Linked DNA regions of Homo sapiens: all the other regions are reported to be linked to region 1. The links are microRNA targets in miRTarBase. Many come from high-throughput screens and were not tested one by one. Region 1 holds a microRNA gene; each other region holds the end of a gene's coding sequence.

Region 1 (5,177 bases):
AACTCCAGGAGGCAGATGTATTTATTTTGACTATTTTATAGATGGGAAACTAAAAAGCTCAGAGGGTTTTAACAATACACCCAAAGTTACACAGCTAGTGACTGATGGAGCTAGGGTTTGAACCTGAGCTGTCTGAGTCTAAGCCTTGAGCTTATAACCACCAGACTATGGTAATAATAGTAGCAGTATTAGTAACTCACATGTATTGACCACTTTCTATATGTCAGGCACTGTTCTAAGCAAGCACTTGATACATAGTACTGATGTAATTCCTACAGCAGCCCAGCTCAAAGGCACAGAGAGGTTAATTTTCCTAAAGTCGCCTGGTTAGTAAGGGGTAGAGCTGGGATTTTAACCCATGAAGACTGAAGCCACAGCCTATGCTCTTAGCCATGATGTTAAACCACATATTGTAGTCTTACTGTTATTTTCTAAATCTCGAAAGGGAGCTGAGAATTGGGTATTATTCCATAACTAGATTTTGTGAGGCCACTAGCCGTCTTATGGTGATTGGTGGCCTTTGGGCTTATTAAAACTTCCCTGAACTCTCCCACAGAGCCTCAGTGGAATCTCCATGCTTAGAGTCAGGCGGGCTGAGCCCAGCAGTGCTGCTCGTCCCTAGGGAAGATGTAGTACTTACCATTGCAGGAGCAGCTCCTCTGCAGGTGGTGCCGCGGGGTTAGGATGCTGAGCCTGGCGGTGCTGTACGTGGGCCCAACCTTGGGGTCCAGATGCACTGTGTTATGGCAGATTTGACCCTGGCAGGTTGGCCCCTGGCAGGGCACCATGGGCATAGCTGACCGCATCTGAACCCCCACTGAATGCTCCATCTCCTTGGCTGAGTGAGTGATGATGGATGCTAGCTCCTGAAACTCGTAGAAGGTTCCAGAATGCCCCTCAAAGACCAGGAGCACATCCACACCAGCCACGGCCTCTGCAGGCTGGAGGCTGGCCAAGTGAATGTTAGCCCGTTTGATGTCCAGCTTATGGCTGAGGAACCTCTGCAGGTTCCGCCAGTGGTCACTCACCAGCTCCTCGGGGGTGAGCTGGTAGAAGCCCATCCACATGGCCTGCTGCAGAGCCTCCTGCCCCACATGCCACACGTACACATGGACCCCAGCAGTCGTGGTGAAGGTCCCATCGCTGACCGTGACGTTGAACGAGTAGTGGCCACGAGGCAGGCCCTGGGCGGCGATAATCTTGCCATCAGGCGCACCCACTGAGAAGTGCCTGCCCAGGGTCTCCTCTTCTGCCAGGCTATAGGTCAGCGTGTCCTGGGGGTCTCGGTCTGTGGCATGGATCTTACCCACCATGCCACCCTGGAACTCATCCTCTCCAACAGTGATGAAGATCTCCAGTGGGAGAGCAGAAGGTGCATAGTGGCTCTGCTCTGTGACATGGACACGGACAGACGTCAAAGACGAGAGGGGAGGGATGCCACTGTCTGACGCCTGTGGGCAAAACAAACACTGCTGTCACCCAACAGAACTGCAGTGCTCTTGCGCCCGACTGAGGCTGGGCCTCCTTGTGGAGCTACGTTTCTCTGCCCCACGCCCAACTTGAGGGCTGGCTCAGCGCATTGTTGCATTTAGAAAAAAAAAACCTAACTCCAAAAGCACTGACAGAAAAGAAAGATTTTCTGAAGGTTTTGTAGAGATTGAAGGAGGGAGTTACATCCTATACCATGCAGTAAAACAATGCAGTTTCCTCATGTGACATCTCTCTGAGCCTCTTCCTAAATCTCTCCAGCCATAGACTTGGGCTAACTTCCTCATGAAGTTTCTCATTCTGTCCCTGTCCTCAAGGGCGCCCTCAGATGTCTCAGCAATTCTGATGCACCATGCACCCTGCTCAGCCTACGAAAATTCCCCTTGGGATTCCCTTTTGCTATGCGATTGGAGTGGGAGTCGGGATTTGTCCTTCTAGTCAGTCAACGAAGTCTTCTGCTGTGGCCAGGAGAAAAGAGACAATAAATAAGTTACCAAATAACTTGGATAAAATGCTGGGAAGGAAATAAACAGAGACCTAACTTTGATCAGGTAGAAGAGAAGGAGTCTCTGTGGAGTGACATTTGAGTCCTGAGGGATGAGAAGAAGAGGCGACAGACAGAGGGAGCAGCAAGTGTAAGGTCCTGGGGTAGGAATGAAGGCGGTGTGTTCAACAGCACAGACGGGGTCACTGGTGCTGGAGCAAGTGGGCAGGGAAGCAGGCCTGACCTCACTGATGGGCTGGCACGCGCAGGGTTGCAGTTAATGTCAGAACTGTGAAAAGCCGTGAGGGTGACAGGACCTCACTTAAGTAGGGAAAAGAATGTAAATCATAAACGCATTTTCCTTTCATGTTTCACCACACATCCCTGCAACTTCCTGCCTGACTTAGAAAGGACAGGCTTGCCTTCTTCTCCTCAGTGATGTTATCACTTCCTCAGCTGTCAACGAGGGTCTCCACAATTTTCCCTGTAGTAATATCTTGTTCACCTGCACTCCAACACTTTTAATGTACAAGAAAGTTGATAAGATTACACCTACTGCTGGAAGTCATGCATAACACCGAAGAGATATTAATAGCAACAATAATAATTAACACTACTGTTAATTATAATGTATAGCTAACATTAGTTACAACAATACTACTACTACCGATTATATATAATACATAGCTAACATTAACTGAGTACAATGCTAGTCATTATCATAGATAAACTATGATAATGCTGTAAATACATTATCCTAGTTTATCCTTCTTATGAGATAGGTACTATCAAGTCACCCATCCTACAAAAAATATAACTGAGGCTCAAAGAGGTGAAGTAACTTGCCCAAGGTCATACAGCAGCAGATAAGGCCTGAGCAGAATCTGAATACCTATCTGTGTCTATAGCCTGTGTTTTTCTTTGCTGGCCTATGGTGCCTCCCAGTGCATGGAAGTGGAAGTACGGGACCAATGCAATTGATGGTGATGATGCCAGTCATTACTAAGCTCCTGTCTAGGCAGGACGTGTGCCTGGGTCTGAGAATACAGAGGTCAGGAAGCCATTCTCTCTCATCTCTCCCTAGGCAATCACATCCATGCTCTTGGCTTTGAGGGCCATCTACCAATCCTCTGAGCTGCCAACTCCAATTCCCAGCTACCCACTGGACACCTCTGCTTGGATGTCTCACAAACAACTGGGAAATAATGTGCAAAACAGAGCTTCGGTTTAGCCCATAAACCTGTCCTGCCTTCCCGTCTGGGCCTTTCCAGTCTCATAAATGCACTACCACCGAAGTCTTCATGGGAGCCAACAATTTAGAAATCACCCCTGAATCGTCTCTGTTCTTTCTAACTGCACATCCACTCCACCAACTCCTATCAATTTACATACAAAATATGTCCGAAATCTCTCCGCTTCCTGCATCTTCTCCATCACTCCGTGGTCTCAGCCCCACTATCTCCAGCTTGGATGACTTCTCACTGGTCTCCCTCACCCACTCTATAGAGCTTGAAAAATGAGCTTCCTGAGACACAAAGAGGATCCCTTTTCCGTCTGAAACCCTCCAACCACCTCTCATTGTACTTAGATTAGAATCTAAAAGTGTTACCAAGGCTTATACTTAGAAGATTGGATGCCCTGGTTTGTCAAGGACAGTCTTGATTTTTACCTGTTGTAAATCAGCTACTACCAAGTATTATTTTTAGTGCCTGTTTTGGACTCTATGTTTGTGTCCCCTCAAAATTCATATGTTAAAATCTAATCCCCAGTGTAACAGTATTTGGAGGTGGAGCCCTTGTGAATGGGATTAGGGCCCTTATGAGAAGGGCCATGTGATACAATGAGAAGCCGACAGTCTGCCATTCAGAAGAGGGCACTCACCAGAACCTGGCCATGCTGGCACCCCGATCTGGGACTTCCAGCCTCCAGAACTGTGGGAAATACATTTCTGTCCTTTAAGCCACCCAGCCTATGGTGTTCTGTTGTAGCAGCCCAAATGGACTAAGTCAGTGCTTCTCTCACTCTCAAAGATCACAGTTTGGACCTCAGATAATACAGTCATCCAAGCCACAAGGCCCACATGATCTACCCAGCCTATCTCCTCAGCCTCATTCCCACCCCTGCTCATGATGTTCTCAGTACCTCAGCCATACCTCAAGCCACTTCAGGCTCTTTCCCAACTCATGTTGCTCTTCCTGCCTGGAAGACTCTCCTGCCCACTTTTCACATGGTTGGCAGCTTGGCTCTCTGCTCAGATGTCACCTCCTGGGGGCAGCCTCCCTCTGAATGTGTGTCCCCCTGTCTTATGAGTCTCTCATCACTTTACTTCCTTATCATCATTTGTAAAGATGTTATTTCTTTCTTTATCTGTTTATTGTTTATCTCCATGATTACAATGGAAAGCCCCTGGAGACAGGAATCATTCCCTCCTTACCCTCTGCTATGTTCCTAGCAGCTTGCAAATGGCCTCGCATGTAGTAGATGCTCAATAAATACTTGTCGAGAGATGGACTGACTGACTGAAAGAATGAATACATCATTCCCAGCCCATAAGTTTACAGAATAGTAGGGTCCACTGGACTTGAGATTTAGGAAAGAGATTTGGAGAAATAAAGTGAGGGAGAGATATCAGACCACCATCTTGGCCACTGTTCTTTAGCAATTCCTATGAAACCCATAACACCACCACCAGAATCCCCTACACACATGTGCATACAATATCTCACTTGAGCCCCAAGCCAGTTCTCTGAGGTAGGTTGTTTTAGCTCCTGAGGTTCAGAGAGCTGTTCTGGCTAAGCTCTAGGAGCTACAGCCAGAGGGTGTTTTGCCCAGGCACAGAGCAGGGATTAAGAATTTGGAGTCTGGGGTCAGAGTGCTTGGGTTTGAAGCAACCCACCTTTGCCACTTATTACCAGTATTACTTTAAGCCAGTCACTTAAATCCCCTGTGTTCCTCAGTTTCCTCATCTGTAAAGCGGGGTGGTAACTATACCTGCCCTGAGTGTTATGAGGCTTTAGTCCTGAGAAGGACCTAGCCCAGTGCCTGATGCATCCTAAGTGCTTTGTACATTTTTTCCCTAATGACAGAAGCACTGGTGGGGCTTTTGCCAGCATCTTTACTGTCCCCATGGTCACCACCAGAAGCCTAGCACAGCTCTCACCTGGATCTGAAGCTGATACCATTCCTGAGCCCTCCTGCTTAGGCC
Region 2 (5,177 bases), not on the chromosome of region 1:
TGTACTAACTCCAGGAAGCTGGTGTGGTAATTTAGGACACCTACTCAGTGTCTGGGGTGTTGGAGAACTGGTTGGTATATGGGAAAAAAGCTCACACATTTGGTCACAGCAGTGTTGGAAGTGTTGAGTGTAGTGGAGGAAACTGTTTCCCATATAGCCACTTACTAGTTTTGTGACCATTTACAAGCTAGTTATCTCTGGACCTGTTTCTGCATCTATAAAATGGGAATAGCATGTATCTCACTGGATCAATAGAAGGAAATTTATAGGAAGGCATTAAGGGCCTGGCCTATATATAGATGCTCAATAAAGGGCTGATTCCCACACCTGTAACCCTAGCATTTTGGGAGGCTGAGGCAAGATCACTTGAGGTCAGGAGTTCAAGTCTAGCCTAGGCAACAACGTGATATGCTGTCTCTACAAAAAATAAAAAATTAGCCAGGCATGGTGGTGCATGCCTGTAGTCCCTGCTCCTCAAGAGGCTGAAGTGGGAGGATGGCTTGAGCCCAGAAGTTTGAGGCTGCAGTGAGCTATGATTACACCACTGCCATCCAGCTTGGGTGACAAAGTGAGACACTGTTTCAAAAAAAAAAAAAAAAAAAAAAAAAAAAAGGGCCCAGCGCAGGGGCTCATGCCTGTAATTCCAGCACTTTGGGAGGCTGAGGCGGGCAGATCACTTGAAGTCAGGAGTTCCAGACCAGCCTGGTCAACATGGCGAAACCCCATCTCTACTAAAAATTAGCTGGGCGTGGTGGCACATGCTTGTAGTCCCAGCTACTCAGAAGGCTGAGACAGGAGAATTGCTTGAACCTAGGAGGAGGAGGTTGCAGTGAGTGGATATCATGCCACTGCACTCCAGCCTGGGCGACAGAGCGAGACTCCATCTCAGAACAAAACATAACCAAACAAAAAACAAAAAAAAAGGCAACTGAGGCCATCAGATCAGTTCCTTCCCATGTCAGCATTCTGTGGAGCATTGGCCTGCATTGTAAGGCTTCAGCCTGGTAATCTTTATCTGTTCATATGCATTTGTTTCAACTCCTCTGCCAGAATGGGCATGTCTTTTTTTTTTTTTTTTTTGAGACAAGAGTCTTTCTCTGTCGCACAGGCTGGAGTGCAGTAGCGCTATCTCCGCTCTCTGCTAGCTCCGCCTCCCGGGTTCACGCCATTCTCCTGCCTCAGCCTCCTGAGTAGCTAGGACTACAGGTGCCCACCACCACGCCCGACGAATTTTTTGTATTTTTAGTAGAGATGGGGTTTCACTGTGTTAGCCAGGATGGTCTCGATCTCCCGACCTCGTGATCTGCCCACCTCAGCCTCCCAAAGTGCTGGGATTACTGGCGTGAGCCACCGCGCCCGGTGGTTCATGTCATTTTTTACGAGTGCCTGTCACAGATGTAGCAATCCACATGCACTTTTGCTGGCACTTGCCCCGGGTTACTGAAAACTCATCTGAGATGGTGGTCTTCTGAAATTATTCTTTTTTTTTTTTTTTTTTTTTTTTTCTGGAGACGGAGTTTTACTCTTGTTACCCAGGCTGGAATGCAATGGTGCAATCTTGGCTCACTGCAATCTCCACCTCCTGGGTTCAAGCGATTCTCCTGTCTCAGCCTCCCGAGTAGCGGGATTACAGGTGCATGCCACCACGCTCGACTAATTTTTTTTTTTTTTTTTGTATTTTTAGTAGAGACAGGGTTTTATCACATTGGTCAGGCTGGTCTCGAACTCCTGACCTCCAGTGATCCGCCCGCCTTGGCCTCCCAAAGTGCTGGGATTACAGGCGTGAGCCACCATGCCTGGCTTTTTTTTTTTTTTTTTTTTTTGAGACAGTCTCGCTCTGTAGCCCAGGCTAGAGTGCAGTGGTGTGATCTTGGCTCACTGCAAACTCCACCTCCCGGGTTCAAGTGATTCTCCTGCCTCAGCCTTCCAAGTAGCTGGGATTACAGGCACATACCACCATGCCTGGCTAATTTTTGTATTTTTAGTAGAAACAGGGTTTCACCATGTTGGCCAGGCTGGTCTTTAACTCCTGACCTCAGGTGATCCGCCCACCTTGGCCTCCCAGAGTGTTGGGATTACAGGCGTGAGCCACTGCACTCGGTCTGAAATTATTCTTGATGGGTACAAATATAGCCATTTCTGGAGAAACACAAGCTGGTCTCTTAGAAGACAAGTGGTTGCAGATTATTAAAATGAGAGGTGGAACCCAGCAATCCCACACAGGTGGTGGAGCTGTGACGTGGACCACCTTCTCAAGACCTCAGCTTCTCCTCCTCCATCACAAACAACACTGTCAGGCTTCTCACGATTTTTGGCTTGAGGGAAATACAGACACATCAGATAGAATTCTGCATAATTCCCTGGGATTTGATCCTGGCTGGACTTATTGGCTGCATGACCTTGGGCAAATGATTTATCATCAGTCTTCATTTCCTCCTATAAATGGACAGTGTCGCTTGGTGGATAAGCAATCACATGTGAAAATGGCAACACAGAACCAGCATACAGCAACTCGGTCCTGCCCTGAACCCCAGTGAATGGCTTGAAAGAAATAACACCAGCAATCAGGTAACAATGAGACATATGCAGCTTTATTTAATAATCTGTAAAAAGTCATACTCTGGCAGAGTGATGCATTCCTTATCTCAGCAGAAAGCAAACAGTCTGTCTGAAAAGCCCCTTCCCAAGATTTGGAACTGTGTAACCCTGAGCTTACATCTCAATGCTCCCAAGAGCTGGGCTCTTGCTATGTGGTAGTTGGTCTCCACAATTCTCTCACCCTCCAGCAATACTCTCTGTCTGGCTGTGACTCCCTCACCTAACAGTAGACATGAGGCTGAAAACAACTTTACCTGGACAGGGCTACCCCTACAGATTGGCCCTTTCTCTCCTACAAAAGGGAGTTCATAGGATTAACAATCTTTCTAATGGCTGGGAGCAATGACTCATGCCTGTAATCCCAGCACTTTGGGAGGCTGAGGCAGGTGGATCACCTGAGGTCAGGAGTTTGAGACCAGCCTGGCCAACATGGTGAAACTCCATCTCTACTAAAAATACATAACTTAGCTGGGTATGGTGGCAGGTGCCTGTAGTCTCAGCTACTCGGGAGGCTGAGGCAGGAGAATCGCTTGAACCCAGGGGGCAGAGGTTGCAGTGAGCCAAGTTTGCGCCATTGCACTCCAGCCTGGGTAACAGCGAGACTCTGTCTCAAAAAAAAAAAAAGACTCTGAGAAATGGGTTCTGTATCAATTTAATTTGGCTTCCATTACATCTACTGAAATCAAGGCTATACTTGTTAAACATGATACTGTGTTAATGGCTGTTCCTCTCCCCCCACCCATTTCTCCCCCATCTACATGCTTTTTAGGCCAAACCTCTCCCCTTTCTGGGAACTGAGGAATGGAGACACACTCTCTGTCACAGACCTAAGAGGCACTTCTTGTGGATATGTGGATGTCTGGTATCAGATACTGCAGCGACAGCAGTTTTGCTCTTCAGAGCAGAGGCCTGGCATTTTGTTTCCACCTTCCTGTGCTAAGAGAGTCCAGTAATTAAACCACATTCACTCCTTGGAAAAAACTCTATGTTGTATCAGAACCTCAGCGATGGTTCATGGGCTTCCAGCAGAATATATTCCTCCCTTTTATTTATAGAAGAGTATACAGAAATTCATTTGGACAGAAGGAGCCTCTCTATGTAACAGGCACCCTTCTGCTACTGGTCACAATCAATCAATGGTCCAGACGGCAATTATGATTTTCCACATTCCTCAAAGCTGCTCTCTCCTGAAATCACTTTGCAAATTTTGTTGACCAATTTGCAAACAAAAGAGAATGCAGTGGCCTACCCAACCTAGAAATCTGTTCTGCCTAATTCCCTTAAAAACACCATTGAGAATGCAAAATAAGTCCCTTTTTTGTTTTTTGCAGAAGCACTACAAGAAAGCGTGTCTAAAACCACAGAACTATGCACACACAAACACAGACACGCGTGCTCGCACACACAGAGTCGGGATCAAAGAATCTTATCTGATACATAGTTGGGGGAGCACGGGAAAAAGCTGGCAAGAGAGGATATGGAGAGATCTGATCAGCTAAAGATGTTGGAATGTTACAGTATGGCATGGAAGTGGTTCTTGGGCTATACAAAAAAGGGGGTGGGCAGGCAGAGAGAATGATAAATCCAGGCTACTAGAGAGAGGTTCAGTGGCCATGCATGAGTTAAAGATAGTAGAGGCCAGTTTACTGGATGAAATGTTATATTATGGAGTGGTCATTTGAAGGATGGACTTGCAATGGTCCAGGGGAGGAGCATCTGCTTAGCAGGACACCTCCATGGTCTGGTGTCTGTCCAGGACATCAGGGGACTCACAGGATTCTTGAGTTCCATCTGACTGATTGCTGGTGACAGACCGGCTGAAGGGACTTTCTCCAGAGCCGAGGCTACTCGAGGTTGAGTGGGTTCGTGATCGGGCGAGCCGAGTCATGCTGGCAGATGGTACTGTAACAGAGAACCAAGGGGACTAGAAGATGAAGCCCCGGTTAAGCCCAGCTAACCTAGGAGTCTCATCAAAGTCTTTATGTTTAGCTTTTCCGACTCATTTACCATGACACCCAGGACAAGATATAGCCATCCCCATTTTGTATCATTTGCTCTAGGTGAGTGGCGATATGTGAGGCCACTTTAATCCTTTAGATCTGGTTGGAATCTCAGCTGATTGTAGTCACCGCAGAACAAGGGGAAACCCTAAATCCAGAGTATAGCCTCTTAACTATGCCCACACCATTCAGACAGTGACAGAATGGAGGCTTTGGGAACCCAAACAGGTAACCAAAACCTACAGTGCATGCAAGACTAAACCAAAAGAAAAGAAAGACACACACACAAGTATGAAGGTGTTTCACAAACACAGTGCAAGCCCGATACAACGAGACTACCATCCGTGTCCACAGGCTACCTTGCTACCAGGGAGGAGATTTGTAGGATGGTGCAGGTGAAGGGGAGGGCAGATTGGCTTGGAGCTGACCTCAACACAGGGATGAGGTACAGGTTGCCAGGGACAGAGAAGCAGGTGTTTAACTCAGACTCCTGTTCTGCCACTGCTTGACTCTAAGGTCCTTCCAGCTTGGCTGGGACTGGGCCTTACCTGGCATAGCCTCCCTGCCTATCGTCCTGGG
Region 3 (5,177 bases), not on the chromosome of region 1:
TGGCCACCTAAAATTCATGTTGGGAAGCTAATCATCAATGTGATGCTATTAGGAGGTGAGGCCTTTGGGAGGTGATTTCATTATGAGAATGGAGCCCTCGTGAATGGGGTTAGTGTTCCTTTATAAAGTGGCTCCAGAGAGTGGCCTGGCCCCTTTTGCCATGTGAGGACACAGTTTGAAGATGCCTTCTGTGAAGGTGAAAGTGGGACCTCAGAAGACACCGAAATAGCTGGCGCCTTGCCCAGCTTCCAGAACTGTGAGAAATAAATTTCTGTTGTTTATAAGCCAGCATTTTATTATATTTTGTTATAGCAGCCCAAATAGTTTCTGTAATAGTTGTGCTTTTTCTTTATAGTGAACATATACTGTACTTTTATAATCAGAATGAAACAATATAAAATAATGGAATATCTATGCAATAGATTAATAAACCAAAGAAATGAGTGCACAATTTATAAAATAGAACAAATCTGTGTTAAATTTCTTTGGTGTGATGATGGTGTTGTGATTATGTCACTGTTCTTAGGAGATACATGCTGAAGTATTAGGGATGAAGTAACATGATGCCAGCAATTTACTTTCAAATTTTTCAACCAGAAAACAAAAGAGAGAGAGTTTGTGTGTGTATAATATGTCTGTGTAAGTCTGTGTGTGTTTGTGTTTGGAGAGAGAGAGTATGAGTGTAAACGGCAAAATGTTAATATTTGGGGGAAAAAGGTAAAGTATATACAGGTAATCATAGTACTATTTTTCAACTTTCAGTAGGTTTGAAATTTTTCAAAATAGTTGGGGTAAAATAATGTTTAATAAAGGTTTGTAAAAATACCCATTATAGTAACTGAAAAAGGTAGGATTTCATGGCAGCTGTCTTTACATAATAGGGTTATGGATGATTTTCTTTTCATTCTTCTGAGACAGGGTCTGGCTCTGTCACCCAGGCTGGAGTGCAGTGGCATGATCTCAGCTCACTGCATCCTCTACCTCCTGGGCTCAAGCATCCTCCCACCTCCGCCTCCGCAGTAACTGGGACTACAGGCATACCACCACACCTGGCTAATTTAATTCTTTTTGTAGAGATGGGGTTTTGCCATGTTTCCCAGGCTGGTCTCGAACTCCTGGGCTCAAGCAATCTGTCCCCACCTCAGCCTCCCAAGGATTACAGGTGTAAGCCATCACGCTCAGCTGATGATTTTCTTTCTACTTGTCGGTGCTTTCTCAATTTTATTTATGTATTTATTTATTTTTGAGACAGGTTCTCACTCTGTTGCCCAGGCTGGAGTGTAGTGGTGTGATCACGGCTCACTGCAGCCTTGAACTCCTGGGCTCAGGTGATTCTCCTACCTCAGCCTCCCAGGTAGATAGGACTACAGGCGCATGCCAACATGCCTGACTAATTTTTGCATTTTTTGTAGAGACGAGGTTTCACCCAGGAGTCTCAAACTCCTGGGCTCAAGCTATCTGTCTGCCTTGGCCTCCCAAAGTGCTGGGATTATAGGCATGAGCCACCATGCTTGGCCCTTTCTCAGTTTAAATAATAAGGATATAATATTTGGGGAATTATGAAAATTATTTTTAAAATAGCATATTTTAAAATTTGAATTTATAAGCAGAAAAGGATCCTTTGTTTCAGTAATTTTGGGGGATGATATATGAGACATCCAATAGGATAGTGATCTTTGTAATGAGAAAGAGTGTGTGAATGATAGATGGGATATTAATATAATAATAGAAACCTGTTACTGGCATCTTTCAAATGTTAAGAATTTCATATACTCAACTTTTGTAGTCATCACAACAATGTTGTAAATAGGTATTAATAATTATCTAAACTTTTATAGATACTAAATAACAGAGTGAAAATGGAAACAAAGGCCAAGCAACTTGGTGCATGTATGTTATTCCAGTACCTTGGGAGGCTGAGGTGGGTGGATGGCTGGAGGCCAGAAGTTTAAGACCATCCTGGTCAATATAGTGAGACTCCATCTCTATGAAAAATTTAAAAATTAGTTGAGCATGGTGGTCTGGGCCCTATAGTCCTAGCTACTTGGGAGGCTGAGGCCAGAGGATTTCTTGAGCCCAGGAGTGAGCTATGATCATGCCACAGCACCCTAGGCAGCCTGAGTGACAGAGCCTCTTAAAAAAAAAAAAAAAAAAAAAAAGGACACAATGTTAAAACAAAAGTTGAAACAAAGTCTGTCTTAGATTTCCAAAGTTTATACTCTGGTAGTTTCTTGTGATAGAGAGAAATTTTATAATTGGATTCCAGCTGGCTGACATAGTAAACTAAGCTGGGCAAAAAGATAAATAGCAGATAATAGCTCTCCCCGATCAGAAATGTAATCTAATCTGTCATGAGATTAGAATTAAAAGGAGGAAAAAAAAAAAAAAGAATAGAATTGTAAACCTAGGCTGGGAGTGGTGGCTCACCCCTGTAATCCCAGCACTTTGGGAGGCTGAGGTGGGCAGATCACTTGAGCCCAGGAGTTCAAGATCAGCCTAGGCAGCATGGTAAAACCCTGTCTCTACAAAAAATGCAAAAACAGTTGGATGTGGTGGGGTACACCTGTAGTCTCAGCTATGCAGGAGGCTGGGGTGGGAGGGTTGCTTGAGCCCAGGAGATTGAAGCTGCAGGGAGCAATGATTGTGCCATTGCACTCTAGCCTGGGCAACAGAGAGACTCCACCTCCAAAATAAATACATAGATAAGAAACGTAAACCTAAAGAGTAATTAGAAGATGCCTTTAAAGTGAAAAGCAAAGGTTTCTCCTCTAATTCTGGCAGTACATTTTAGAAGAATTTCTTTTTATTAACATTCAGAGCTTTCAAGTGAATCTGAGTGATATTCAGGTAGTATAAATAGGAAAAGACTAGTGCATCATGCTAATTGCTATATAAGCATTACCATCTGTGAGACCTTGTCGATGGATAAACTAGGAGCTCTTTCAAGAAAGAACAACCAACATTCCATCAGTGTTGCTTCGTCTATAAAAAGCATAGTCATATATTCCTTGAGTGGGATAGATAACCCCAATATTAAACCAATAAACAATATCCCAATATTAGCAATATTAACCCAATATTAAATGTTAATATTAAACAACATTAACCCAATATTAAACCAATAAACAATAATCCCAGTGTCAAACCAGTAATGAAAGAAATTAATACATGGGATATTCATGCTTAATTTCATTTAAATCCTGAAATTAGGTTGACACAAAACAACAACAAAGAACACTTGGTTTTAGATGTTGAATGTAAAAAGAAGGATAAGAAAATAACTATTTCTCCTTTGCTAAATGGATTCTCCTAAGTTCAAGGGAAATGAGAGTTGACTAATAGTAGATATAATTCAATCAACATTTTCTTTTGTTTCATTTTTTGTGTGTGTATGATACAGAGTCCAGCTCTGTCGCCCAAGCTGCAGTGGTGCAATCTTGGCTCACTGCAACCTCCACCTCTCGGGTTCAAGCAATTCTCGTGCCTCAGCCTCCCAAGTAGCTGGGATTACAGGCATGCACCACCATGCCTCGCTAATTTTTGTATTTATAGTAGAGACAGGGTTTCACCATGTTGGCCAAGCTGATCTTGAACTCCTGACCTAAGTGATTCTGCCCACCTCGGCCTCCCAAAGTGCTGGGATTACAGGTGAGAGCCACCATGCCTGGCCCTCATTTTCTTTTGTTTCTTTTAATTCATTTTATACATTAGTTATCATAAAGTTTATCCCAGGTTGGCGTCCCTCTTTTACCCGGCATGCTTTCCAGTTGCTGCTCACAGTTAATTCAGAGGCCCCATGGGATACAAAATTTTAGCATGGGCTTCAAGAAAATAAAGTTTAGAAAGTAGGTTATACTCCTGAAAAAAAGTCATAAATTTCTAAATAAAAAGTAAATTATTTGGGGGTGTGTATACCATAGCTCTCTTGGCAGAGGAAATGAAGTACTGATATTAAATAAATGGTTTTAATTAGAATTTAAATAACAGATAAATACTTGTTTCTCTAAATATACTTTGAGAATTGGAAACAAGATTATAATTTAAAAAAATCATACAAACATTTTTTAGAATAAAATCTAAGAAAGAATTTTTATTAATTTAACCAAATGACAGCTTTCATTTTAATTATAAACTATTATTTGGCATTTATACACATAAAATATATGTTTAACTGAATATTTTGTACAAACTCTATGAGTATTCCAGATACAGAATTATGATTATAAAATAATCAAGATATTTCAAGGAGACATGTGATTCAGTGCCAAAATTACAATTGTATATCTGTCACAATACTTATAGCCCATAAAATGTTCACATGAAATCTCTAATGTAGGCAATTAATTGCTAGAAGAATAAATGATGTTCATTATATAGAACATAGAAAGGGACACAATGCAAAATAAAGATATGAAAGCCTTCAGAATTTCTTTATGTTGTTGCTAGTAAGATGACAAAACATAAAGCTATGAGGATCTGGCCACGTAAAATATTTATAGTAAGTATGCCTTGAGTGCTTGCATGGAAGAAATGCTCTGTCAGCCACTTTTGGTAGAAGGATGGCCCAATATAGACACCAGGAAAACCTCTTCGACCACAGCCATGTCCGTAACTGGTAATTCCCATTACAAAAAATCTTTTATATTCTGGTAAGTAGCACATTAATGGTCCCCCACTGTCACCCTGTCAAAAAAGTCCCAAAATAGTGTTTGTTACTTCTAGTATTCTTCAAGCAACAGTAACACTGGAATAAATTATTTACATCAAACATACATTTATATAAATACACATTTTCAATATACCCCCAATTTATAAAGATCACTAGATTTTGAGCTTAAACTTCCAACTCAAACAGGAGGAATTCAATTTTACCCAGGTATTTGGAGGAACCATATAGCTGGTAGATAAATTTCTCATCTGCCTGGTTTTGAGCCAGAATACTATAAATCAAATTGTTTGGATTTTTAAATATAATTACTTAGGAGAAATATAATTTAGGAAGTGTGCAAAATATTGTCAAAACTGTCTATTATTAGAATATTCTCTTGCTGAATACTGCGTGTGGAAAGGATAACTTTAAGATGTATGAAGGATTCTTTTAGGCACGTGTGTGGTTTGCTTGCCAGGGAGAGGAGTAAACTGGCATCTTGCAATAGAAGACAAGTTTCTAAGTGTTG
Region 4 (5,000 bases), not on the chromosome of region 1:
AGTGGCACAGTCCTAGCTCACTGCAGCCTCAAACCCTGGGTTCATACAGTCGTTGCACTTCAGCCTCCCAAGTAGGTGGGACTGCAGGGCTCACACTACCAAGTCCAGCTAATTTTTTTTTTTTGCAAAGACGAGGTCTTGCTTTGTTGCCCAGGCTGGTCTCAAACTCCTGGACTCAAGCAATCCTTCTGCCTTGGGCTCCCAAAGTGTTGGGATTACTGGTGTGAATCACCATACATGGCTACAGCTGTACTGCTCAGATCAGGATACACCATGTACACTCAGTTTGGTTCTGGGAGTCACGTACAAAAAGAGCACCAGAGCACAGGAGGGTGAACACCTTCGAAGGGACCTGCCTTCAAGAAGGGAACACACTTGTACTGTGTGACCCAGAGCTGGGCTGGGATTCCTGCCCTGACATAATTTGAGAAATGGCCATGGAGAGGTTGGGCTTGCTTTCTCTTGGGGCCTAGGGCTTTGTCTGGACTCGCCAGGGCTTCCATCTTGGAAGCGAACAGCTTTGCTGGGGAAGGCCTGGTCCTAGGGGATGAGGAAGGCTGTTCTTGGGCTCTTGACTTGCACTGATTTCCCCTTTAGATCCCAGTGCTTGCTATGTCTCAGCTCCACTGTCTTCCAGCCTCTAGTATCCTTTCTTTGCCAGGTCCTAGAATGTTTTTCAAGCTCCAGGGCTGTTGCTGACTACCTGCTTTGTGCCTCTGTCCATTTTTTCAGGGCCTCTAGGACTGCCTGGTTCCACTCTCATTTATCCTAGAACACCAACTCAGTTGAGCTCCCAAGGATAGGCAGGAACTGAGTCTTATCTGGCATTCCATAAAGCTGGGCACTTTAGATATTCCTTATAGAAACATTTTTGGTGTTTAAGGTCAGAGCTGGGCTAAGGGTAGCACCCGTGAAAGGCAGGATCTACGGGTCCTGGGGCTGACTTCTCTCCCATGACCACTTCTAGGACCGAGAGGAGCGGAAGCTGCTGCTGGACCCTAGCAGCCCCCCTACCAAAGCTCTCAATGGAGCCGAGCCCAACTACCACAGCCTGCCTTCCGCTCGCACTGATGAGCAGGCCCTGCTCTCTTCCATCCTTGCCAAGACAGCCAGGTAAGTGTCAGAGGACCAGGCCTGGGTCAGAGCTCCTCTATCCATATTAAAGGCTAGGATAGAAGGAGCCAGGCTCAGGACATGGGGGATGGGACAAGGTCACTGGGGAGAGGTGCCTCCATGTCCAGCCCTGCTCCAGTAGGCAGGAGGGAAACTGGTGTCAGATAGCCCTGGAGTTGGTACCTGGCACTGAGTCCTGTTTGTCCTTCTCGGAAGCACCTGTCATGTCATCTCTGTCTCCTCTCCCCATAGCAACATCATTGATGTGTCTGCTGCAGACTCACAGGGCATGGAGCAGCATGAGTACATGGACCGTGCCAGGCAGTACAGGTGAGCACCTGGCCAGCGTGGGTCCCTCAGGCTACTTGGGCTCCCACCCTCCATCACTGTTCCAGCTTTGGAGCCTGGCCCCTAGTCCAAGCTTCTCATTTGGTGCAGCCCTGGAGACTGACCACAGATCACTTGGGTGCTTCAGTAGTTATTCATGTCAGCCCTGTTTACCCTGTGACACTCTTGAGGGCGCTGAGGCCAAGGGAGATGGGCCTAGATTGAGTCTGTGATGAGCTGAGACCTTCCCTCCCAGATACCCCTCCTCGACACCCTGCTTCTCTGGCCTGAGGGGATGAGGCTTACCTGGGCTGGGCAGGGCAGACTGTGGCTTAACTGCCTACCCCCACCCCCTCTCTCTTGGTCAGCACCCGCTTGGCTGTGCTGAGCAGCAGCCTGACCCATTGGAAGAAGCTGCCACCGCTGCCGTCTCTTACCAGCCAGCCCCACCAAGTGCTGGCCAGTGAGCCCATCCCGTTCTCTGATTTGCAGCAGGTGAGACACCCCTCACCTGCCCCTGCCCACCCTTCTCACACTGCCCAGGGTATGGCAGAGGGTTCACCCACTCTGCCTCAGAGGAGGTAGGGAAGGTGGAGTTAGGGAGCCTGGTAGCCTTGTAGGCCCCAGCTCCCTCCCACCTCGTTCTCTTAACTTTTTATGTCTTTCCTATCTCCTTCCTGCAACCTTTATTGTTTCACTCCCCTTTGTTCTTTTCCTTCTGTCTCTCCCATCCCTGTCTTTCTCTTTGCCTTCCTGTTCCCCTTCATTCCCTCCTTCTCCATCACCATCTAATCTCCCCTCCCCATTTTTCCTGATTGCCCTCCTCACCTGTCTCTGTTCCTCTCCTCCCCGGCCCCTCTCTGTCTCAGGTCTCCAGGATAGCTGCTTATGCCTACAGTGCACTTTCTCAGATCCGTGTGGACGCAAAAGAGGAGCTGGTTGTACAGTTTGGGATCCCATGAAGAGAGGGGTCCTTGGACAGCTCTTCTCCTCTCTTCATCCCATCTCTACCCCACCCCCTTGGCCCCCAGCCTCACTGCGGCTTATACAGTACCCTAACCTGCTACTAATCACAGAGAAAAATGTGAAGAAGGAGGAGAAGAGGAAGGCTAGAAGCCTGAGCAAGTGAGGGTAGAACCTTTTGGGACTGGCCTTTGAAGCTCTGGCCAGGGATGGGGTGGGGGCCAAAAGGACAGAGCCTGGTATGTCTTCATAGTCATTGAGAATGTGGAGATACCAGTTTGGGTGGGGGGTGATCACCAGGGGACCTAGGGAGATCCCCTTCCCACCCTCTCTGTTGGCCTCAGAGTCACTCCTGCCCCCTCTCCCTGACTTGGTGCTCACATGCACCTCACTAGGGTTTGTGACCAGGGTCTGGATGAGCTTGAATTTGAATGAATTGAGTTTGTATTTCTAGAACCCTGGGTTTTTACATGTTTGGTCTTTTTTTGTTTTGGTTTGTCACCCTCGATAAAGGAAGTATATTCATCCATGTGCTGGTTCTGGCCCCTCTGTTCTACCCATTCTACTTTTGATTACTTAGGTCTATGAGAGTAAGATGGGGGGAAGGGGACATCTTCCAGGGATATTGAAGATGAACCCAAGAGACAAGGGTTTAGGGTGTCAGCTCTTAGCTGAGACCTGGCTTGGGCTAACCTCAGACTGGATGAGACTGTTCTTGTCCCTTGTCCAGTGATGATGGGAACACTGTCAAAGCTGAACAGACCTGAATCTGAGGCAGCTTTGATTCTTGGGGGCCCTGCCTCAGACTCAATGGAATTACCAACAGCCCCTGGGGGTGAAGGGAGACATGGCGGGTTGGGGGGTGGAGAGAGAAAGCAGACCAGGCTCTTCTGGGAATACCTAATATGGAGTCAGCAAGCAAATGTTTTTAAGCAGAAGATTCTTTTTATCAAATGAAATCTTAAGCAGAATCCCAGCATATAAAACAGAATGGAATTACTTTGATCTGATTGAAGTGGGGGCTGGTTTCAGAGATCATAGGCCATCTTCTTGGCCTGTCATGGAGGCCTGTGAGGCATCTCTACAGACCCTGGTACTCTGTGAAGAGTTTGGAAATTACTGATCTACTTTAACCCCCAAATCTCTAAGCTGAAAAGTACAAAGGGGCCCAGAGAGTTAGATAAATTTCCCAAGGCTGTGTGGTAAACCCACGTCTCCAGTGTCCCAGGCCAGCAGGCCTTTCCCTCAATTGCCTCCCTTTTTCAGCAAAATAAGACTAGAGCTGGCCAGGTGCAGTGGCTTATCCTGTAATCCTAGCACTTTGGGAGGCTGAGGTGGGCAGATCACCTGAGGTCAGGAGTTTGAGACCAGCCTGGCCAACATGGCGAAACCCCATCTCTACTAAAAATACAAAAAAAGGCTGGGCGTGGTGGCTCACGCTTCTAATCCCAGCACTTTGGGAGGCCAAAGCAGACGGATCACCTGAGGTCAGGAGTTCAAGACCAGCCTGGCCAACATGGCGAAACCTTGTCTCTACTAAAATATAAAAAATTAGCTGGGGGAAGCCGAGGTGGGTGGATCACAAGGTCAGGAGATGGAGACCATCCTGGCTAACATGGTGAAACCCCGTCTCTACTAAAAATACAAAAAATTAGCCAGGCGTGGTAGTAGGTGCCTATAGTCCCAGCTACTTGGGAGGCTGAGGCAGGAGAATGGCGTGAACCTGGAAGGCGGAGTTTGCAGTGAGCCGAGATCGTGCCACTGCACTCCAGCCTGGGTGACAGAGCGAGACTCCGTCTCAAAAAAAAAAATTAGCTGGATGTGGTAGCAGGCGCCTGTAATCCCAGCTACTCAGGAGGCTGAGGCAGGAGAATCGCTTGAACCCAGCAGGCGGAGGTTGCAGTGAGCTGAGATCGCACCACTGCACTCCAGCTGGGGTGACGAGTGAAACCGTCTCAAAACAACAACAACAACAACAAAATTAGCCAGTCATGGTGGCAGGCGCCTTTAATCACAGCTACTGGGGAGGCTGAGGCAGGAGAATCTCTTGAACCTGGGAGGCTGAGGTTGCAGTGAGCCAAGATCGTGCCACTGCACTCCAGCCTGTGTGACAGAGTGAGACTCCGTCTCAAAAAAAAAAAAAAGAAAAGAAAAGGCTAGAGCTACTTGCAGTTGCCTGAGTTAGAGAACATCTCTACAAGGTGTAAGTGACTTCTCATCTGCTCAACAGCTCAAATTATTTATTGTCAAACCATGCTGTCTATGCTTAGGCCTTTAGGACTACTAGGGTCGTGGGAGCCTCAAAGTGTATTCTGCTTGGTCCAGGCCTTCTTGGGCTTGATGTTCATGCGTTTCCAGACTTCAGCTGTGGTGCGGTCTGCTTTGGTGACCCCACTGAAGTCGAACGTGGTGATACGGGACAGGGTGCACAGCACATATTGCCTGTGGGGAAGACTTAGGCTGGGGGCCAGCACCCCCACCAGAATCCCCTTCCCCCTCCACTAGTTGCTGTTGTCTTCCCTGACTGCAAGGAATGGAGGGACTTGAGCATAGTTTGGGAAAGATTAGGTTTATCCTGACTGAGAGCAAGGAATGCT
Region 5 (5,177 bases), not on the chromosome of region 1:
GTGGGCCGAGATCACGCCATTGCACTCCAGCCTAGGCAACAAGAACGAAACTCTGTTTAGAAAAAAAAAAAATTAAAAACATTATGTGGACAAAATACATTTGCAAGCTGAGACTAGCCTGTGGCACACCGGTTAGTGACCTCTATTCCACATGCTGAAATAATGCAGGCCAGACTGGGTCCAGGAATCCACCTCTAACTCTTTCCCACTGCCAACATTAAGATGCAAAAGAGGAAGAGTGATGTGGCAGCTCCTGGAAACCCAGGCATCTCTGGGAAAGCAAGCAGTGTTATGGCTCATGTGTCACCTTTTACCCACAGGAGTTGATGATGTGGTTCCCGGTATGCCAAGTAACTAGGAGGGAGGAGGTCAGCACTGGGGAGGGGAAGGTAACATCCTCAGTCAAAGTTGGACCTCCCAGACCTGTTAGGCAGAGTTACAAAGAAAGACAATGGGTTGGAAGGAGGATGGAAACTGAGGTGCTGGCCAAGAACATAGCAAGATTTTGGCCCCCCAAAACAAGCTGGAAAGTGATGTCACTTCCTATGTAATAATAATGTGGCTTCCGTGGAAACCTTCCAACTTAACACTGCAGAATCTGAAAAGAAATGGCAATGAGCAGAGGTCTCCCACCCTCACGTGGAGGACAGGGTCCGCAAAGATGAGTCACATTGTAGAACTTCACTATTCAGAGAAAGCCCCTTCACATGCAGAATCTCGCTGGTCTCTCAGGACAATCCTGTGAGGTAGGCAGCACCAGGGGTGTTACTGCCCCTTACAGAAGAGGGAACTGGCATTAGTGATGATCAGAATGGGTCTTAGATAGCTCTGGGATGTGCAGGAAGGACACTTGTATGAAGAATAAAAGACCGGCCGGGCGAGTGGCTCACGCCTGTAATCCCAGCACTTTGGGAGGCCAAGACAGGCGGATCATGAGGTCAGGCATTCGAGACCAGCCTGGCCAACATAGTGAAACCCCATCTCTACTAAAAATACAAAAAATTAGCCGGGCGTGGTTGGCGGGCGCCTGTAATCCCAGCTACTTGGGAGGCTGAGGCAGGAGAATCGCTTTAACCTGGAAGGTGGAGGTTGCAGTGAGCCAAGATTGTGGCCACTGCACTCCAGCCCGGGCGACAGTGCGAGACTCCATCTCAAAAAAAAAATAATAAAATAAAAATAAAAGACTGCAGGCCCTTTCTCCTTCCCCGTGCCCATTTCTGTAGAATCATTTATTCATTAAATTCACTGAACACTTTCCATGGGCTGGGCACTCTTAGGCATTGGGAACATAGGAGTACACAGGTCCTGGGCACTGTCCTCCCCTGTGGCTGGGTCAGTCATCCTTACTCTGAATCATGGCCCAGACTGGCCTTGCCCTACTCCTCTCTAGGTAGAGCAGTGATCTCAGGCCAACTCTTGCATTTTGTTCCAGAAACCTTGATTATTTCCCTGACTATTGGTCACTTCCCGAAATGCACTGAACTGTGCCAGGAATAGGATATGTTTTTAAGTGCTTGAGACACAGACAAGTGGCAGACGCATACCCAAATTCCAACCATACTTTACTTCTGACCTAATTTTAATATATGTTTCATGCAGTTACACAATTATCTGTGCATAATGCTCTGAGAAAAGGGATGGCACATACAGTTTCTCCTGAAGCGGGAAACAGAGCCCAGTTGGTAAGGTGGCCAGTCTCTAGGGCATCTTAGATGAACCTTGTTTCTTCCTATTACTTTTCCTTCATCTACTTTTTTTTTTTCTGAGATAGAGCCTTGCTCTGTCGCCCAGGCTGGAGTGCAGTGGCATGATCTCGGCTCACTGCAACCTCTGCCTCCTAGGTTCAAGGGATCTTCCTACCTCAGGCTCCTGAGTAGCCAGGATTACAGGTGCATGCCACCGTGCCCGGCTAATACTTTGCATTTTTGTAAAGACGGGGTTTCACCATGTTGGCCAGGCGGGTCTCGAACCCCTGACCTCAAGTGATCGGCCGCCTAAGCCTCCAAAGTGCTGGGATTACAGGCATGAGCCACCGTGCCCAGCCTTCCTTCATCTACTTATTTTCCTGTGATGCCTCCATGTTTTAGAGTATGTGTCTGAGGGGCAGGAATATGTATTAGATATATCTAGGGCAGTCCCACCAGCTTTACATTCTTGAGACCTCATCCATCAGTTCTTGTTTTGCAGACATATACTTCTATTGACTACAATGAGAAGTGTGTCTCTTAAAAAGGTAAGTCTGGCCGCGCGTGGTGGCTCACGCCTGTAATCCCAGCACTTTGGGAGGCAGAGGCAGGTGGATCACGAGGTCAGGAGATCGAGACCATCCTGGCTAACATAGTGAAACCCCGTCTCTACTAAAAATACAAAAATTAGCTGGGTTCGTGGGGGTGCGTGCCTGTAGTCCCAGCTACTCAGGAGGCTGAGGCAGGAGAATCGCTTAAACCTGGGAGGCGGAGGCTGCAGTGAGCCCAGATCATGCCACTGCACTCCAGCCTGGGCGACAGAGTGAGATTCTGTCTCCAAAAAAAAAAAAAATTAGCCAGGTGTGGCAGTGCACGCCTGTAGTCCCAGCTACTGGGGAGGCTGAGGCAGGAGAATTGCTTGAACTGGGGAGGCAGAGGCTGCAGTGAGCCCAGATTGTGCCACTGCACTCCAGCCTCAGTGACAGAGCGAGACCCTGTCTCAAAAAAAAAAAAAAAAAACAAGTGAACAAAGGTCTCTGGTTTTCCTAGGCAGAGGACCCTGCGGCCTTCCGCAGTGTTTGTGTCCCTGGGTACTTGAGATTAGGGAGTGGTGATGACTCTTAAGGAGCATGCTGCCTTCAAGCATCTGTTTAACAAAGCACATCTTGCACCGCCCTTAATCCATTGTTTATCTGCTGACCTTCCCTCCACTATTGTCCTGTGACCCTGCCAAATCCCCCTCTGCAAGAAACACCCAAGAATGATCAATTAAAAAAAAAAAAAAAAAGTTAAGAGCAAAAAAAAAAAAAAAAAAGTCCTGGTTGGGTGTGGTGGCGTGTGCCTGTAATCCTAGCACTTTGGGAGGCCAATCCCTTGGGCCCAGGAGTTTGAGACCAGCCTGGGCAATATAAGGAGACCCTATCTCTAAAAAAATGAAAAAAAAAATAAATAAATAAGTTCAAGTTCAGGTCCCTAGTACCTGTGAATGTCACCTTACTTGGAAAGAGTATTCGCTGATCTAATTAAGGTAAGGATCTCGAGATGAGATCATCCTCATTAGAGTGGGCCCTAAATCCAGTGACATGGATTTGGTGTCCAGTGATGTCTTTACAAGAGACAGGAAAGAATACACACAGGTATTCCTGTGTATTTCAAGTCAAGTTGTATATGGTAGTCCTTGCTTAATAAGGGAAAAGTTCGGGTCTGTGTATTTATTCTTAGGGCTGCCATAAAAAATTATGGCCTTCTCAGGGGAGAAGGCCACATGAAGATAGAAGCAGAGACTGGACTTACACTGTCACAAGCCAAGGACTGCCAAGGATTGCCGATGGCCACTAGAGAAAGGAGAAAGGCATGGAATGGATTCTCCCCCAGAGCCTCCAGAAAGAACCTACCTTACTAACACTTTAATTTCAGACTTTGGGCCTCCAGAACTGTGAGACTCAATTTCTGTTAAGTCACCCATGTGGTGGTAATTTTTTTTTTTTTTTTTTGAGACAGAGTCTTGCTTTGTCACCCAGGCCGGAGTGCAGTGGCATGGTCTCGGCTCACTGCAACCTCTGCCTCCTGGGTTCAAGTGATTCTCCTGCCTCAGCCTCCTGGTTAGCTGGGATTACAGGCACACAGCTCCAAGCCTGGCTAATTTCTATATTTTCAGTAGAGACAGGGTTTCATCATGTTGGCCAGGCTAGTCTTGAACTCCTGATCTCAAGTGACCCGCCCACCTTGGCCTACCAAAGTGCTGGGATTACGGGCATGAGCGCTGCGCCCGGCCAGGTTGTGGTAATTTTTTATGGCAGCCCTAAGAATAAATACACAGACCTGAACTTTTGTCTTTTTGAGCAAGGACTGCCATGTACAACTTGACCTGAGAGTGCAGCCTTCAATCTTTTCCTCTGGGGCCTCTGGCAACAGTTCTCAGATGACTATGCTCAGAGAGACACCTGTGACTGTCCACCCAGCAGCCATCTGTTCACCAGCAGAGGAGACCGGAAGTCCCTTGTGAGGTGCTGGGTTCTGAAGCTTCAGGAGTGGGATCCATGTCATCGTCCATATCAGATCTGTCTGCTCCAATCTCAGCCCTTTCTTCCTGCCTGATCCAAAGGCTATTTTCTAGCTGTTCTTCAGCAATTTCTAGCTCTTCTTCCGTTTGTAAAGTAGCCACAGTTTCCCGGGGCAAGTTTGAGGAATATAGCCCAAATTTGGCTTTATAGCCAAACATTGCCTCAAATGGACTTTGCTGCAAGGAAACGTCGAAAGCCTGATTCCTCACCATCTGCATGAATCGGAGGCCTTTGGCCCAGTGACATGAGTGGTTACTCTGCATCCAGGTACTTATCATGTTCTTTACATCACGGCTTGCTCCTTCCAGGGAGCCCTGGCTTTGGCCAGGGTGGTACTTACCAGATACAATCTTTAGGTCTGGCCACAACTCATTGAGCTCATGAACAACCTGGTTTGTGAACTCAACGCCACTGTCAGAGTCTAACACACTGGGTGTACCAAGAATTGTGAAAATATCTAACAAGACACTGACCACCTCATGGGCCTGTTTGGTTCTTAATGGCCGTAAAATAATAAACTTGGTTGAGTGATCCTGGTAGTATAAAATGAACTTGAACTCACCATCGGCACTGGACTGCATGTCAAGTATTTCAACTTGGCATGTGGAGTCTATGTCCTTAAAAGTCATGGGCTTTGGTGCAAGGCCTCTCTTGGGTACTGGGTTCTTCTGGTGGCACTGTTTACACAGAGTCAGATATAAGACAATAACTTCTTTGGTGACATTCCCATATTTTCCTTGCAGCTCCTTGAGCATGCGTGTCCGCCCACCATGTCCAATACTGAGATGTGTATCATGAAGAATATCAAACAACTCTTCCTTATGTACATAATACCGTATTCGATCACGTTCTCCATGAGTAGCCTCTATCAGTTTCTCTGTGCCCTGTACAGAGATCACATCATATTTTGCTGCACGGCGATAATCAC
Region 6 (5,000 bases), not on the chromosome of region 1:
TCGCTAATATTATACAGCGTGAAGTTTAATAGGAGGGAGAGAGATGCACAGAAATCATGAGTGTGCATTGCAGCATGAGAATGGATGATACAAATGTTGAAATCATTCATTTCAGCACTTAAATGTTTCCTAATGACATACAGTATGCCTGGAACCTTCAAGACATCAGGATAGACAAAACAGACAATCTCTGCCTGTAAAGATGTTACAGTCTAGCAGGAGAGCTGGCAGTTTTCAAATTGTAGAAATACAATCATGCATCACTTAACAGGGATACTGAGAAATGCGTGTCTGGACATCTTCAGCCACCCTAGAGTGTACCCACACAAGCCTAGATGGCATAGCCTACTACACGCCTAGGCAGCATGGTGTGGCCTATTGTTCCTAGGCTATAAACCTGTGCAGTGTGTTACTGTACTGAATACTGTAGGCAGTTGCAACACAGTAGTAAGTATCTATGTAGGTAAACATAGAAAAAGGTACAGTAATAATATGGTATTGTAATCTTATGGGACCACTGTCATATATGTTTGTTGTTGGCCAAATTGTCAGTATGTGGTACTTGACTAAGTATTTAATGGCAATGATAATAAATGCGACAAAGGAACTATGGAGACTATGGTAGCATAATAGGGACACCTCACTTACTCATGAGGAATAAGAAAAAGCTTCCCTGAAAAATTACGACTAAGCTGAGATTTGAAGAATAATGTGGAGGGTGGGTGGGAGGGGTATTAGTGACACCAAGGGGGTTGTAAGGGTGTTGCTGGAGGAGGGAGAGACTCTGAGAAGGCTCTGAGGCAGGGAAGCTCTTGGATGTTTGCGAAACTGGGAGGATTTGAAGGATGGGGTTGTCAGGGTGTATCTAGTGAGGGCAGAGCAAGCCAGAAGAGTAAGCAGAGAGCAGGTTGAGCAGGACTTGTAGACCTTCTTGGGATGTCTGACTTCATCCTCAGACCATGTCGCCAGTTGAGAGCTTTAAGCAGGGTGAGAGGGACAAGCCAGTTGCCGCATGGCATGTACAGTGAGAGGGGCTGTCGTGTAAGCAGTGGCTGGTTAGGGGCCTCTGCAATAACCCAGCAAAACTGAAGAGTGTTGGCTTATGAGCTATGCGAGGTGACAGTGGAACTAGAAGGAAGTGGTGGCTTTTGAGAAACGGGCTGGACTGGCCCTGATATTGAATTGCATTGGAAAGAGAGGGAAGTGTGGAAGACGATGCAGGGCTCTGCTATCAACTAGCCGATGGTCCACTTACCAAGGTAGGGAGCACCAGAGGGGTAACAGTCTCGAGGAATGGATGGAAGTTTTCATACTAGGTGAGTAGAGTTTCAGATGTGAAATGGGCAGGAAGATGGGTGGGCCTGATTCTCGGAAGAGGGGGCTGGGTTGGGAGTCATGGGCATCTGGCGAGTACAAAGGCCACGGAGTTCCCAGCATGAGTGTGAACAGTGAGAAGTGTCCGGGAGCAAGCCCTCGGGGGAGCCCTCGCTCACTCCCTTCTCCCAGCAGCAAGTGCAAAGGAACAGTGTCACTGACCAGGGCTCTCGCACTGTCTGGCACACAATCACCGAAGTTTCCAAGCCAGTACATTTTATTTTTATGAATACAACATAAAGCCAGAAACATTCCCAGCCTCATTGTTTTCCAGAAAAGCATCTACCAAACTCAAATGATATTCCTAACCCCTAAACTTATCACAATAGTTACGCTTTAATGCGCTACGTCTACTAACAAAGCCAGATACATTGCCCTCCTCCAATACAACAAAGTCCCCCTGATGGGCATGCCACAATGTACGCCCAACTTTACTGGGTGATCATTTTTGTCCAAGTGCATATATTTCATCATTAAAATGTTAAAAAACAAATATTTAAATTTCTCCCTTTTTTGCCTCCATATGGCTGGTTAATATATCTGAATAACAACTGAGTAGCTTTCTTTTATCCCTTTGAGTACAAGGAGCTTGGAAGATACTCCTTTCTGACTCCCACGTCAGGGTAGGGTCTGGATCACCACAGGGCTTAGAATTGGGTGGAAAAACAGGAGGGAAGAGCTGGGGAGACCAGTCGTGACCCTGGGTGACAGAAAAACATGGACTCTGAACTCTGGCAATCCAGGGTTGGAATATCCTAGATTCTACAACTTCCATAACTATTCATTCTCCTCCCCTTCTCTCCTGGCAGCAACGTAATAATTGAGACACTGCTGGTCTCAGATTCAGCAGGAATGAAGATCAGCGAATACATATTGTTGGGTAACTTCTTAAATCTGATGGTACATTAGCCAGAAATGCTTACAGTGTATTTTATAATAAACTTATGTTAATGGACTAACATGAAGACTCTAAATCTCTCTTACTGTTAGTCCTTATCTACAGTGCCAAATGCATCAGGTAGGTTCAACAAAATCGAGAAACACCACGAAACTCTGCATAATTAGATGAGCGCAAACTACACTTAATAGCACAAAATATCAAACACCTGCTGCTGTTCTTTAACGATGACTTGATATTCTATAGAATTGGAGATGTGATGGCTTGAAGCCTCCTGCTTCCAAAGAAAACACTAACTGGAATCCTTCACAAATGCCCACAACTAGGTTGAGCTCTCAGTTGGGTCCACTTCTATGACTAGAGTCAAGGTGAACTGAATCACTGCCTGCCTGCTCCAGTCCTTTTAAAGGTGGTACAGCACGTTTTTAAACTGACACTGACATCTCAAGAACCAACAGAGTGATGGAAAAAAGTTGAACGCAAATGTGTTCTGCTTTTTTTTTTTTTTTTTTTTTTTTTGGAGACGGAGTCTCACTCTGTCGCCCAGGCTGGAGTGCAGTGGCATGATCCCAGTTCACTGCAACTTCCGCCTCCTGGGTTCAAGCGATTCTCCTGCCTCAGCCTCCCGAGTAGCTGGGACTACAGGCATGCACCACCATGCCCAGTTAATTTTGTATATTCAGTAGAGACAGGGTTTCACCATGTTAGCCAGGCTGATCTCGAACTCCCGACCTCAGGTGATCCGCCCACCTCGGCCTCCGAAAGTGCTGGGATTATGGGCATGAGCCACCGCGCCTGGCCCTCTGCTTTGTTTTTATTTGGAGTCATAATAGAAAAAAATTTTAATAAGCCCCTAAATGATTCTCCATTAATGTGATTTAAATAATAAATTCATAAAGATTGATTTTGTTTATATACACTCAACTGTAGAAAAATGACTGTCTTTTTTTGTTGTTTACACCGTCAAATCCAATCAAGCCAAACATGATGGTTAACTAAAATGATTAATGAATGCAGCATTAGCTGATGGCTTTAAATTTAGCGTGTGTTACTGATGTCAGGGTTGATTAGTTCTCTATCTAAAACTGATGCTATTAAAAGCTTTGAGCAATTTAGATGTTGTCATTGAGTAAAACTTCAATGGGGTGAGAGAAATTCTATCAGGATAAATTCTGCTCTGGTGCAACCTGTGCACAGATGTTGGATAGAGAGAGAGTGGGCCTTTTCTGATGGGACAGGAAGAAGGAACGGGAGGCAGAGAAGCTGACAAGGTGGCATCGATCTCAGGAAAGGTAAAGAAGCTTGGAATAAAAAAAAAAATACTCATCTTTGCACAAGGACTCCCAAATGGCATATGGGTATGAATATTGATCATTTCAGCTTCGGAACTTTTCAAGAAGTGGGAAAAAATAAATGAAGGGGAGGCAAGAGGTTAATATAGTACCATGCCTTAGTAACTCCTCTGAAAATGAATCCATGGGGAAATCATTGTAGTCAGTGGTGGAGACCAACATTTTTATTAATAAGATAAAAGGAAAGAGTGGTAAAGCAAAGGCGATCATTGGATGGAATGATTATGTGTCACGAGCACTTGAGGACCTAGAAAGCAAACTGGAGTGATTATGCCAATCAAATTGCAAGGTTGGAGATATGCTAAAAGGTTTGAAGGAATCCAATCCTGGGGCTATTGCACAGGACTTGGGGAAATCAAGTTGCTGCAAGCAGCTATGACTTGAGGAAGGTGTGCAGTGGGGGACCTTAAACCATTTCCAACATCTGTGCCTTTGAAATATTTTATTACTGATCCAGATATCCCAAGACATTTTAAATGGAAGGGAAAATGTACTATACTAGACCCAAATTCTCTGGATATTTACATTCCATCCCTGTCTAGGGATGTGGGGGAGGTGAATCTGTCAGTGGATCAGATCAGACTAGAAGGTTCTTGTGATTAATGGAGCTGGGCCATCTCTAAGAAAAAGGCAGCAAATAATTTGGTTCCCTCTATGTAGTTCCACCTAAGAAGAGGAAAAACAAAGAGAAATTTTGTTACAATTTCCATTCAAATGAAGGAGGAAAAATATTCTGTCATTTAGACAGGAAGATTTGATGTTATAAATTCCATTTAAATTATTTAACATACTTCTGAGATCCCAGTATGAAAAGCACTTAGTAAGTTCCATGTGAAAATTGCATTATTATTATTAAGAAGATGAGAATCAGTCCTAGACTCAAATCCAAAAGTGAATTTTCCTTGATTTCTTATCACTGATATGGATATCAGGGTCAAACAATTTCTTGTTTCTCAGTAGTCTGGGATGCTTAGGAGATCTTGTAGTATCTGCCAGTAGCGCATAAAGCAAACATTCCTAATAGCCTTTTTTGTTATGCACTAAATATTTGTGTTTCCTCAAAGTCCTGTGTTGAACCCCTAACCCCCCAGTGTGTCTGTATTTGGAGACAGGGCCTGGAGGAGATAATAAAGGTTAAATGAGGTTAAAATGGGGGTCCTAATCCAATGGGTCTGGTGCTCTTATAAAAAGAGAGACACCAGAACCACCTAACCCCACCATCGCAGGGACGGCCAGGAAGACAGCCCATACCCACCAGGAACCAAATGGCCTGGCACCTGATCTAGGGCATCCAGGCTCCAGAACTGTGAGGAATGAATGTCTGTTCTTTAAGCTCCCAGTCTGGACGATTTTCCATTCTCACATAAATTGAACAG

The links. Region 1 holds the annotated microRNA hsa-miR-6499-3p (AGCAGUGUUUGUUUUGCCCACA, at 1,453-1,474, opposite strand). A microRNA usually pairs through its seed, bases 2 to 8, with sites in the 3' UTR of a target mRNA and lowers its output. Matches are read on the target gene's strand: a 7mer-m8 pairs with bases 2 to 8, a 7mer-A1 pairs with bases 2 to 7 and ends in A, and an 8mer does both.
Region 2: the mRNA of NDRG3 is a reported target of hsa-miR-6499-3p. Seed matches in the 3' UTR shown: 7mer-A1 at 3,835-3,841 and 7mer-A1 at 3,150-3,156.
Region 3: miRTarBase lists TMPRSS12 as a target of hsa-miR-6499-3p. The part of its 3' UTR that is shown has no 7-base or 8-base seed match.
Region 4: miRTarBase lists LRRC51 as a target of hsa-miR-6499-3p. Seed matches in the 3' UTR shown: 7mer-A1 at 4,472-4,478, 7mer-A1 at 4,302-4,308, 7mer-A1 at 4,142-4,148 and 7mer-A1 at 3,695-3,701.
Region 5: the mRNA of KRABD2 is a reported target of hsa-miR-6499-3p. Seed matches in the 3' UTR shown: 7mer-A1 at 3,714-3,720, 7mer-m8 at 2,758-2,764, 7mer-A1 at 2,626-2,632, 7mer-A1 at 2,462-2,468, 7mer-A1 at 1,799-1,805, 7mer-A1 at 1,091-1,097 and 1 more.
Region 6: the mRNA of CNDP1 is a reported target of hsa-miR-6499-3p. Seed matches in the 3' UTR shown: 7mer-A1 at 4,017-4,023 and 7mer-A1 at 2,827-2,833.

Annotation. Positions count from the first base shown.
Region 1 is chr5:151,520,636-151,525,812 of GRCh38, forward strand. MIR6499 (microRNA 6499) reads right to left here and starts at 1,513; the gene lies at 1,452-1,513. It overlaps FAT2 (FAT atypical cadherin 2), which reads right to left. Exons shown (of 24, transcript NM_001447.3): 18 at 5,133-5,177; 19 at 641-1,451. It also overlaps a transcript of SLC36A1 not described here. RefSeq lists an enhancer at 1,349-1,518.
Region 2 is chr20:36,649,202-36,654,378 of GRCh38, forward strand. NDRG3 (NDRG family member 3) reads right to left here. Exons shown (of 16, transcript NM_032013.4): 16 at 2,570-4,500. The coding sequence ends at 4,319. Among named protein-coding and RNA genes, the nearest start is that of SLA2, 5.6 kb to the left of the region's middle.
Region 3 is chr12:50,886,768-50,891,944 of GRCh38, reverse strand. It overlaps TMPRSS12 (transmembrane serine protease 12), which reads right to left. Exons shown (of 5, transcript NM_182559.3): 5 at 4,061-4,683. The coding sequence ends at 4,432. Among named protein-coding and RNA genes, the nearest start is that of TMT1A, 36 kb to the left of the region's middle.
Region 4 is chr11:72,095,224-72,100,223 of GRCh38, reverse strand. LRRC51 (leucine rich repeat containing 51) reads right to left here. Exons shown (of 6, transcript NM_145309.6): 6 at 3,329-4,845. The coding sequence ends at 4,704. All of the region lies in intron 5 of LRTOMT (leucine rich transmembrane and O-methyltransferase domain containing), which reads right to left. It overlaps LAMTOR1 (late endosomal/lysosomal adaptor, MAPK and MTOR activator 1), which reads left to right. Exons shown (of 5, transcript NM_017907.3): 2 at 968-1,113; 3 at 1,366-1,443; 4 at 1,809-1,935; 5 at 2,310-2,932. The coding sequence ends at 2,402. Among named protein-coding and RNA genes, the nearest start is that of LAMTOR1, 5.6 kb to the left of the region's middle.
Region 5 is chr17:8,364,976-8,370,152 of GRCh38, forward strand. KRABD2 (KRAB domain containing 2) reads right to left here. Exons shown (of 2, transcript NM_001304947.3): 2 at 1-5,177. The coding sequence ends at 4,159. Among named protein-coding and RNA genes, the nearest start is that of KRABD2, 9.1 kb to the right of the region's middle.
Region 6 is chr18:74,583,786-74,588,785 of GRCh38, reverse strand. CNDP1 (carnosine dipeptidase 1) reads right to left here. Exons shown (of 12, transcript NM_032649.6): 12 at 1,574-4,290. The coding sequence ends at 4,224. Among named protein-coding and RNA genes, the nearest start is that of ZNF407-AS1, 12 kb to the left of the region's middle.